Regions from separate parts of the Homo sapiens genome. Here region 1 is linked to region 2. Evidence: fine-mapped expression QTL. A gene starts in region 2. The other region holds a variant in brackets. All regions are shown on one strand. Distances are from middle to middle. Region 1 overlaps IFT74 (intraflagellar transport 74). Region 2 holds the start of CAAP1 (caspase activity and apoptosis inhibitor 1).

Region 1 (5,385 bases), 150 kb before region 2:
ATTATTAAAATTAATCTGTCTCTTTTTACTTTGTCAACATGGCTACTCGAAAACTTTATATAAATATAATATATACTGTCATTAAATTTCTCTTGGACAGTGCTGCTCTAGTCTCATGATAGCAAGCATGACTGAAACTAATTAAAGTGAAACATCATCTCTTCTTAACTATCCAAGACTAGGCTGGATATGTGCCCTATGTACTTCCGTTGCTCCTTATGCTTACTTCTATCATAGCATTATTTCATTGTATCATAACTGTCACTCCACCAAGTTGAAAGTTTCTTGAGGAAACAGATTAGATTTTTTTAAGCCTCTTATACTGACAAAGATTCAATCCTTGACCAAACTAGCTAGGCTCCTCTGAGCTCTCTTCTCAACTAGGCCTCAACCTCTGCCTATAAAAATTCCACTCTCAGCACAAATGATTTCATGCACCACCTTCTACCCACATTAGAAGATTTAAACAAACAGTTTCTAACAGCTCAAGTCTGCATCCCTGGGATGACCCTATCCCCACTTAAAGTGCCTGCCAGACAAAGCTCAAGGCCGCCGAAAGAATGTACTATTTATTCTAGCCCGTACTGGTCAACAGGCCCCTGACTACCCTTTCTTAGGGTATCCAGTTGTGAATCTTTCCTCTGTACCTTTAAGATGTATATGTGTACTAGTCTATTTGCATTGCTATAAAGGCATACCTGAGACTGGGTAATTTATTTTTAAAAAATAAGTTTATTTGGCTAATGGTTCTACAGGCTGTACATGAAACATGGTGCCAGCAACTGCTTCTGGTGAGGGCCTCAGGAAGCTTACAATCATGACAGAAGGCAAAGGGGAGCCTGCATGTTACAAGGCAAGAGAGAGAAGGAGGAGGTACCAGGCTCTTTTAAACAACCAGATCTTGCGTGAACTCACAGAGAACATACTAATTACTGCAAGGATGACACTGAGCCATTCACGAGAGATCCGCCCCCATGACCCAAACATTTCCCACTAGGCCCACCTCCCACACTAGAGGTCACATTTCAACATAAAATTTGGAGGGGACAAAAAATCCAAACCATATCTGTATGTACCTCCCACAACTCAGGAGTATTTTCCTCAAGGACCTAAAAGCCATTCCATTAAAACGTGATTATCAGGAAAGTTAGGGCCTCTGTCTGCTAGTCTGTGTATAAACATAGACTCCTAACTTGATAATTGCCAGCTAACAGACACAGCTGGCCTAACCAGCATGTACATTGATGAACCCTGTAATTTTTCATTTCCCTTACTACTCCCTCATTCTCCCTTTAAAACACTCAATCACCTCTGTACAAATCAAAGTTGATTTCAATTCATGCTGGACCCTCCTGCCTTACTGCCACGCTGTATTACTGACTAAAATCTATCCTTAGCACTTTAACATGCATCCAGCTTTGTTTATCTTTAACAATATCCAGAATTATATAGCACAGGCTTGAAATAAGTATTCAATAAATGTTGTTAAATCAGTGACAATATACAACATAATACTAGCCAGCTGATGAAAAAAGCCACACATAATTCTGGGGCAATAGGCAATCATAAATTATAGCCTCTGTCAATGAGGCTTTAAAATAATCAGAGAATAACATTGATATATTTTAAAAAAAAAGAATATTAAAATCTAGGTTGTTTTCTCACCTGAAGTCAAATTCTGAGCTGTACTTTGTGATTTCTGCACTTCAGTAGATTTAAAATTGAGGTCATCCTGCATCATCTTTAGCTCTTGATTGGTGATAGAGGATATCTGTTCTATACGATTTATATTCTGCATTTGCAGAGAAATAAAAATAGAAAAAAATCCACTGATTTAGTTAGTTCTCAATAAAACTCTTGGAAAACACTGTCAAAGGATGAGATGTTTGGATCAGGTATTTTTTTTGAAATACACCATTCAAGTTATATATTGTATAGAAAATGAGATTCCAAATTGGGTTTTCTCAATAAAGACAGACTATAAATTCAAAATTGTGGGTTTTTTTTCATTTCCTTTATTTCACTGCAGAAAAAATTCAACTACACTATTTTAGAAACTGGTTGGAGTCTTAAAACACTAGAATATTGAAAGGGGGGCATGCATTTCATAATAGATGCCCAATAAACATTTTTTGATAATTTGAGATACTCATTACATATACATACAAGAATCTTTTTATTTACAATAAATTTACAGTATAAAAATACATTAACATTTTCTAACATGTCTAGATTTTGAAATTATCTGTGCAAATGTTACTTTCAAAAGTTCAGATAGATTAACAATGGAAGAAGATCATAATAATTACTCTGAATTAGTGCTTCATTTACTGCTGAATATTGATATTATACATGTCATCCTTTTTCTCTATTGCCCTAATTACCTGACATTTTGCTAGAGTGATAAAAAAGTTAATAGCTGAAATAAATAGTAACAAGTAAGGGAATTGAAAGGAAGCAGTTAAATGAGAAGATACAATAGTGAGCCGTTCTATTTTTTGAGTTGTATTTGGAAAGTTAATCACGGCAAAAATAAAGAGGACACCAAGACAGGCACATGGTACTCACTCGACTGCAGTGCTCCAAGAGTGCAACAATGTTGGCTTCTATCTGTGCCTTTCGTTTCAGTTCCTGATTCTTTGTTTCCTCAAAAGTCTCAATAAAAGCTGACAATTGGAAAACATAAGAGAG[A/G]TTACTGCTGATAGAGTTAACACTATATAAACTCTGATTTGCAGTTCTTAAGAGTGCTTTTTAGAATTTTCTTTTTTTGAGACAGAGTCTCACTCTGTTGCCAGGCTGGAGTGCAGTGGCACGATCTCGGCTCACTGCAACCTCCACCTCTGGGTTCAAGGGATTCTCCTGCCTCAGCCTCCTGAGTAGCTGGGACTACAGGCATGCACCATCACGCCCAGCTAATTTTTGTATTTTTACCAGAGACAGGGTTTCACCATGTTGGCCAGGATGGTCTCGATCTCTTAACCACGTGATCCACCCGCCTCGGCCTCCCAAAGTGCTGGGATTATAAGCTTGAGCCACGGCACCTGGCCCAATTTTTAGAAATTTTAAGCTGCCACTGTTTAATTTGTTATTAACCCAAAGGTAATTATTATTCAATAAGAACTTTATATACTTTCAAACTGCCTAAATCCTGTGACCTTGATATAAGTAAATCAGAAAGTTATAAATATAAGCTCAAAAGAAATAGCTGATAAAATGACAATCAGAAGAAATTTGCTTTTATAAAGATCTCCTTTGATACATCAATAATTATTAACACCCTGACTACTAACTTTATTTCTATAATTTCCAATGCTGAATACCCATTTTATCTGAAAATAAGTATTTTATTTACAATGCTGGATTCATTTCAACTAAATGAATTTAATAATGTATTCAGATTGTAAATAAATATTCTAGGAAATTATCTTTTTACTTGTTTAATATAGAAACAGCTCTTATTTACATTTTCGAGTATTTCTATGGAGCATCTAAAAAATAGAAACTTTCAGTCAAAAATAATTTTACTGTTAGCATGAATAACATCAATAGCTTGCCTTCTGTAATGGATTCCCATTATACTTTTTTCTTATATTTAGCATATTTTTTAAAGTAAAACAGTCTTCAACAAAACATTTTTTATTTGAATATGGTGGTAGAGGACCACAATCAACATTTTTTATAAAACTGAATTTTCTTTAATGTCCTGCTTCAGCATTCACACAGGTCTTATGTGTGAATATCCTGCTTCTATAATCTGTTGATCACACATTAAGTGGACATATGAGATTTTTACATATACAAAGGCATAAATGAACATTGTCTTTCAGGGGTTATTTTTTAAGGAAAACAAACCATAATTAATATGTGGAAAGAAATCTGAGCTAGGTGACCTTCTATTTTAAGATTCTGTAGTATAGGAATTCTTTCCATTCATTCAGTAAACATTCATTAAATGAACACTTATTGACACCTAAGTGCCAGATACCACACTAGGTAGTATCTAGTAATTTCCAATACTGTGGTGTCATGACACATTGTTCCTTGATTTTACACCTTTCTCCTTTACCAAAAGACTTAAAAAAATATTTTTGAGATAATTTTTGGTATTTACTGACATTTTAAAGAAAACTTGGTACATTGTAAAATAAGAGGTGACAATTACTCTTTTATTGCATGCCTCCATGAAGGTAACTATTGACATCAGACCTAGATGAAATTCTAGCACTTCGCTAGAATTCAGATTCCAGCAAAATGATAACTTAAAAGGAAACCAGTAATTGAGAATACATGCCAATTTTTTAAAAAAATTATAAATGTATAGGTTTAAGTGAAAACCAATTTATAAAATCAGGCTGAGATTTTTTTTAAGTGAATCAAAACTAACAAAAGGCAACTAAAATTATAGCTGGTGATAGAAAAAAGTGACAATATCTGATGTGAGGGCTAATAAACAATGAGATAAGTATTATGGAAAGCTAAATATAAAAGTGAAAGATACTAAAGGTGAATATAGTGAAGCATGTAAAAGAGAACATTCAATCAATAAATGATCTATAGCAGCAGTCCCCAACCATTTTGGCACCAGGGACCATGGAAGACAATTTTTCTATGGACCAGGGCTGGGGGCAGATGCGGGTGATGGTTTTGGGATGAAACTGTTCTACCTGAGATCATCAGGGGTTAGATTCTCATAACAAGAGTACAACCTAGATCCCTCATACGCGATAGGGTTCACACTCATATGAGAATCTAATGCTGCTGCTGATCTAACAGGAGGCAGAGCTCAGACGGTAATGCTCGCTTGCCAGTGGCTCACCTCCTGGTGTGCGGCCTGGTTCCTACCGGTCTGCAGCCTGGGGATTGGGGACCCCTGGTCTATAGGTTTCCTCTGTACAGACTACGAATGTAAGTACTAGCTTTAGAATCTAGCCCCAACGTATAGACACTCATCACATATCTTTTTAGAATTTTCTACCCATCTCTAAATTATGCTAGAAACTATTCTTCAAGGCAAAATGCTTTGAATGTCCACACTTCTGCATTTATTAGCCATTATATCTGCCCAAAATGAGGTCTCTGATTTGGTATAAATGAACAGCAATCTGAAAATATTATATTTTTATATCTACAAGAATATCACTTACTGTCCATATGTTCCTCCCTTTTCTTTAGCTCCTTGTATTTCTGGTTCATTTCACCTATGAGAGATATAAAATACAACATGAATTTCAAAAATTGCACATACAGGGCTCTAAATTAAAAATCTCTCTTTGGTTCTCTCTATGCCATTAGTCATTGACTATTCGACGTGTTCGATTAGGTGAAATTCTTTTACAATGACTTATAGAGACTTTTCAAGTAGACATATGCATGTAACTTGAATAT
Region 2 (5,385 bases):
TTGCTCTGTCGCCCAGGCTGGAGTGCAGTGGTGCGATCTTGGCTCACTGCAAGCTCCACCTCCTGGGTTCACGCCATTCTCTTGCCTCAGCCTCCTGAGTAGCTGGGACTACAGGCGCCTGCCACCACGCCCAGCTAATTTTGTTTTTGTATTTTTAGTAGAGACGGGGTTTCACCGTGTTAGCCAGGATGGTTTCCATCTTCCTCATGATCCACCCGCCTCGGCCTCCTAAAGCACTGGGATTACAGGCGTGAGCCACCATGCCTGGCCCAGACTCTTCTTTTAATAAGGACACCAGTTATATTAGATTAGGGACCCACCCTTATGACTTCATTTAACCTTAATTACCTCCTTAATGACCCTATCTCCAAATTCAGTCACATTGGGGTTAGGGATTCAACATATGAATTCTGTGGGTGATGTTATAGGACCATCAGGTTCTATTAACCACTACATGGTACCAGACCAATACATGGAAACAGCAGGAGTTGCAGCAGAGAAAGAGTTTAATAATGGTATGCCAGCCAAGGGAGAAGATGGGAGGGAACCTCAAATCACCTCCCCAGTAAGTTTTTGGACAGGGGTTTTTAAGGGAATTTTGGTGGGTAGGGGGCTGAGGAGCTAGGGGTTGCTGATTGGTTAGGGCATGGGGGATGTAATCATAAGGAGGTAGAAAGTGCATTCTTGTGCTGAGTTCGTTTCTCAGAAGGGGTCTTCAGACTGAGTAGCATCAGTGACCCCACTGATATGGTTCCAATGACTGGAGGAACACCACAGTCTTTTGTCTCGTGCTGGTTTAAATAAAACGATACAGACACAAGTGGAATTGTTTTAAGGAGCGGAGAATTTAATAGGCAAGAAAGAAGAGGCTCCCTCATACAGAACCAGAGGGAAGAGGGCTCCCAGATGAAAGAGGGAACCTTGGGTGCAGCAGACAAGAGCCAGTTATATTATGAGGCTGGAGGAGGTGGTGACTAATTTGCATATGACCCAGGGAATTGGTTTGACCAGGTATGTCATTCACGTAGCCTGCAAAAAAAGTGGCCCTCCCACCCTAGCCTTTTAATATGCGAATGTAGGGTGCCACAATGTTCTACACATGTGGGGATATGTGGGGATGGCCATGTTGCTAGGCACATGTGGGGACAAGAAGAAGAGGGGAATCGCCATACTGAGTAAACCCAGTTTCTAACGGCCTGCATTTGCATATCATAGCTTGCCAGCCCAGCTTTTTTGCTAGACAAGAAACATTTCTGGAGCTGCTTTAAAAGAAAAAAAACTTCCCAAAGACCCCTTTACCTCTCTATCTGCCTAAAATAATTTCTTAACTTCTGTAACACCATTGGAGTACAGAATCTGGTAAATATCTCAAAATGGAAAACTTGAGATTTCTTAACCGAGTCAAAGATATCTATAAAGCAATAAGCAGCTATAAGGAAGTGGGCTATAGGAAAAGTTGGTTAACGTTTAGCTATGCTTCTACTAAAAGCTTATCTTTTGTCACAAATCCAGCAATTTGGCAGGGCACGATGGCTCACGCCTGTAATCCCAGCACTTTGGGAGGCTGAGGCGGGTGGATCACCTGAGGTCGGGAGTTCGAGACCAGCCTGACCAACATGGAGAAACCCCTTGTCTACTAAAAATACAAAATTAGCCCTGCATGGTGGCGCATGCCTGTAGTCCCAGCTACTCAGGAGGCTGAGGCAGGAGAAATGCTTGAACCCGGGAGGCGGAGGTTGCAGTGAGCCGAGATTGTGCCATTGCACTCCAGCCTGGGCAACGAGAGTGAAACTCCGTCTCAAAAAAAAAAAAAAGAAAAAAGAAAAAATCTAGCAATTTAGTTTTATTAAAATTATGATGGTTTCAGGGACACAATTCATAACAGGTTTATAAATGTAACATGTTATTAATTTTATGTGTTTTTCCTATCTGTGAACACAACACTCTCAATCCTTTCAGGTATGACTCCAATGAGTGTGATACTTAACGGAACTCCTGGGAACACAGTGGGCTCAGCCCCAGGATTTACCTTACAAGGCCAATTTAAGAGTGGGGCCTGGGGGAAGACAGTTTTCCTAGGGCTGGAAGTGTCCCTATTTATTAACCCTAGGCTGGTTTTAGGCATTTAAGTAGTTGTTGAATGACTGAGACAAATAGGAGACAAAGAGAAGGGAAGCTTCTTTAATTGCTTCTTACCCCAGGGAAAGGCACAGAATTACTACCACCCAGCTAGCTTTGCCCCAGGCTCTACCTTTTTCCCTCAGTGGCTAAAGGCCCCTGCTGAAACGACAAAGACCTTGGTTCACGTTTTAAGTGTTCTAGCTCCCTTGTCTTAAAATCTGCCTTCTATTTAGATTACATCCACCCATAAAATCTCATAAAGCTTTGACCCATTCTCAATTTTCAAAAACGAACTCAAGCTCTACTTGTCCATGTCAGACTCTACGCAAGAAATACCTAATTTGCCCAGGTGATGAGGAAAATGAGATGGAACAACTTTTCCCTATTCTCTTTATTGTCATAGCGTTGTTAATATCTTAAGATTTGGAGGTAAACGGAAATGGAGAATCAGCAACTATACTTCAACCTTATTGTAAACAGACAAAACACTAACAATAAAAAGTTTTGAAGTTAAAAGGACGTAAGTTCCACCTTCTATCCTTTGTAGAGATATAAAAACAAAACAAAACAAACTCTGACTAGACAGGCTACCCGCTACACACTCAAATCGACCTCCGCGACCGGAGGGGGAAGCGCAACTGGTTATGGCAACCCCCCTGCCACCCCGGCCCATAACGCTTCACCACGTTCTGTGCCACGGCCGGAAGTGACGCATAACCTGCGACGCCAGTGCCTGCCGCCCACGGCCGCAGGAGTCGGGCTTCGGTCGCACCAGAGACAGCGGACTTTCCTCCGATGGTTGCAGCAGAGGGATCATGACGGGGAAAAAGTCCTCCCGGGAGAAACGGCGCAAACGTAGCAGTCAGGAGGCGGCCGCAGCGCTCGCGGCCCCGGACATCGTACCCGCGTTGGCCAGCGGCAGCAGTGGAAGCACTAGCGGCTGCGGGAGCGCCGGGGGCTGCGGGAGCGTCAGCTGCTGTGGGAACGCCAATTTTAGTGGAAGTGTCACCGGCGGTGGGAGCGGCGGCAGCTGTTGGGGCGGGAGCAGCGTGGAGCGCAGCGAGCGCCGGAAGCGGAGGAGTACCGACTCTTCCAGCGTCTCGGGCTCCTTGCAGCAGGTGCGTGCGCGCCCCTCTGGCCGCTTCCTGGAGCTGCTGCTTTTTCGGAAGAAGTCGGGCTTCCAGAGGGATGGGGCGCAGGCTGGAGCTCACTGCTAGCGCGGCAATCTCAAGGTCGTCCGTCCTTGAGGTTCATGTTCCTACCTAAGTCCTGGTGAGCCCCACACTCCCATCCGTGTCTTGAATCTTGAACTTCAAGTTTCTGGATTTCCTGATCACTTTTTTTTTAATTTATTTTTTAAACTCTTGGCTCCTTCCACTCCTATGGTTTCACTCTGCCGGAAGAATACGAGTTGGAAGCTAGCCTTCATTTCCCTTGCGAGCCAAACACTTCTCCCTTCGTCTTCACCTTTTCGTAGATATGGTTAACTCCGCATTAGAGATAAGAAAATTGAGGCCCAAAGAAGTTAAACTTTACCCACGGTCACAGAGTTTGTTAATAGCTCCTAGGTTTGAATCCAAATATCTGACTACAAAAGCCATGTTCTTTATACGCCACCAGTCTGCCAAGAGAACGCCGTTTTAAAAAAGTTCATAATTTGTTTGAAAACAAATGAATGAATAGGTACTTTAAATTCATTCAATGAGGAAATAAAGGGAAAGCGTCAAGTCCCTTTTCTTGCCCCTCCATTAGTATTTTGATACGCGGCCTCTTTTAATCACTCCTCGTGAGATACGTGTTTTTAAGTTCCTACACTTAAGCTGTATTGTGTTATTCCCGCTGTTGAATACCTGCATTGTTGTGATAGGCTTCTTTATATACGTGGTTTGTTATTTTTACTGACTGCCTGGTATTGTATTATATTTTTCTGATATTTGGGTGTGCAGGTTTTTTTGTATTGTTGTGACTACAATACAAACACCTTTATGTATATATCTCCTACAAGAGTTATGTTGGGAGAGAGTGTGAGAACTGAAATTCCTGGGTCAAAGTTTATGCTATTAAAAACTTATGAATGCCACCAAATGCTTTCCAAATGAGACTTTACAGATTTATAGTCCAAACAGTATATATATAAGAATACCTATTTCTGAGATTCTTAACTAGCTTTTGATGACATTTTGATGGCATTTTTTAAAAAAATTGCCAGACTAGTGGGTCAAATTAATAGTTTGTTTTAATTTTTATTTTCCTTATTAGTGAGATTGAACATTTTAATATTTTTATTTGCCATTTGATTTCTTCTTATGTAATTTTCTGTACATATCCTCTGCTCATTATTCTCTTTGGTAGAGTAGAAACAGTTTATGTAGAGATTTTATCAGGTGGTTTTCTGGCATTCTGTTGAGATGATCACATACTTTTTCTCCTTTAGTCAGATAATGTAATTTGTTGATAAGTTAGTTGATGTTGAACAGTCTTTGGAGTCTTGGGACAAGTGCTGTTTGGTTTGTTGAGTTTGTTGTACTTGGCTGGAATTCAGTATTTTTACTTTCATGTATGTGTTTCTTTTTTTTTGTTTTTTTTGAGACGGAGTCTCGCTCTGTTGCCCAGGCCGGAGTGCAGTGGCGTGATCCCGGCTCACTGCAAGCTCCGCCTCCCGGGTTCAGGCCATTCCCCTGCCTCAGCCTCCCGAGTAGCTGGGACTGCAGGCGCCCGCCACGACGCCCAGCTAATTTTTTGTATTTTCAGTAGAGACGGGGTTTCACCGTGTTAGCCAGGATGGTCTTGATCTCCTGACCTCGTGATCCACCCGTCTCGGCCTCCCAAAGTGCTGGGATTACAGGCGTGAGCCACCGTGCCCGGCCAACTTTTATGTATATGTTTCTAAATTAGATCAGACTGTAGTTTTTATTTTTGTAATGGATTGAATTAGGAAGCTTTGTGTTTTTTTGGTGTGTTCTAGAATGGTTTATATTTTCTTCTCAAATATTTGTCAGAAGTATCTGGGTCTAGTGGAGTTTTTTAGAGTGATTTTTTAAGACACTCTTTAAAAAAATTATTTAATATAGATCTATTCAGTTTTCCCACCCCTTCTAGATTCAGTTTTGGATATTACCATTCTTATTTTAAATAGTTTCCTTTTTTTTTTTCTTTTTTTGAGATAGGCTCTCACTGTGTCGCCCAGGCTGGAGTGCAGTGGCACCATCTCAGCCCACTGCAACCTCCGCCTGCCAGGTTCAAGTAATTGTCCTGGCTCAGTCT

The links. PIP is the estimated chance that this variant, and not a neighbour inherited with it, causes the effect. A credible set is the group of variants that fine-mapping cannot tell apart.
Region 1: its variant is the best candidate, but not a certain one, in a credible set for the expression of CAAP1 in thyroid (GTEx, PIP 0.67).

What each region holds. Positions count from the first base shown.
Region 1 is chr9:27,044,555-27,049,939 of GRCh38, reverse strand. IFT74 (intraflagellar transport 74) reads right to left here. Exons shown (of 20, transcript NM_025103.4): 14 at 5,145-5,198; 15 at 2,569-2,666; 16 at 1,666-1,792. Among named protein-coding and RNA genes, the nearest start is that of LRRC19, 42 kb to the right of the region's middle. The variant A/G (reference allele first, on the strand shown) is at 2,692.
Region 2 is chr9:26,890,267-26,895,651 of GRCh38, reverse strand. It overlaps CAAP1 (caspase activity and apoptosis inhibitor 1), which reads left to right and starts at 2,850. Exons shown (of 6, transcript NM_024828.4): 1 at 2,850-3,239. The coding sequence starts at 2,937. RefSeq lists enhancers at 2,621-2,690, 2,292-2,871, 2,821-3,040, 3,121-3,300, 2,872-3,451.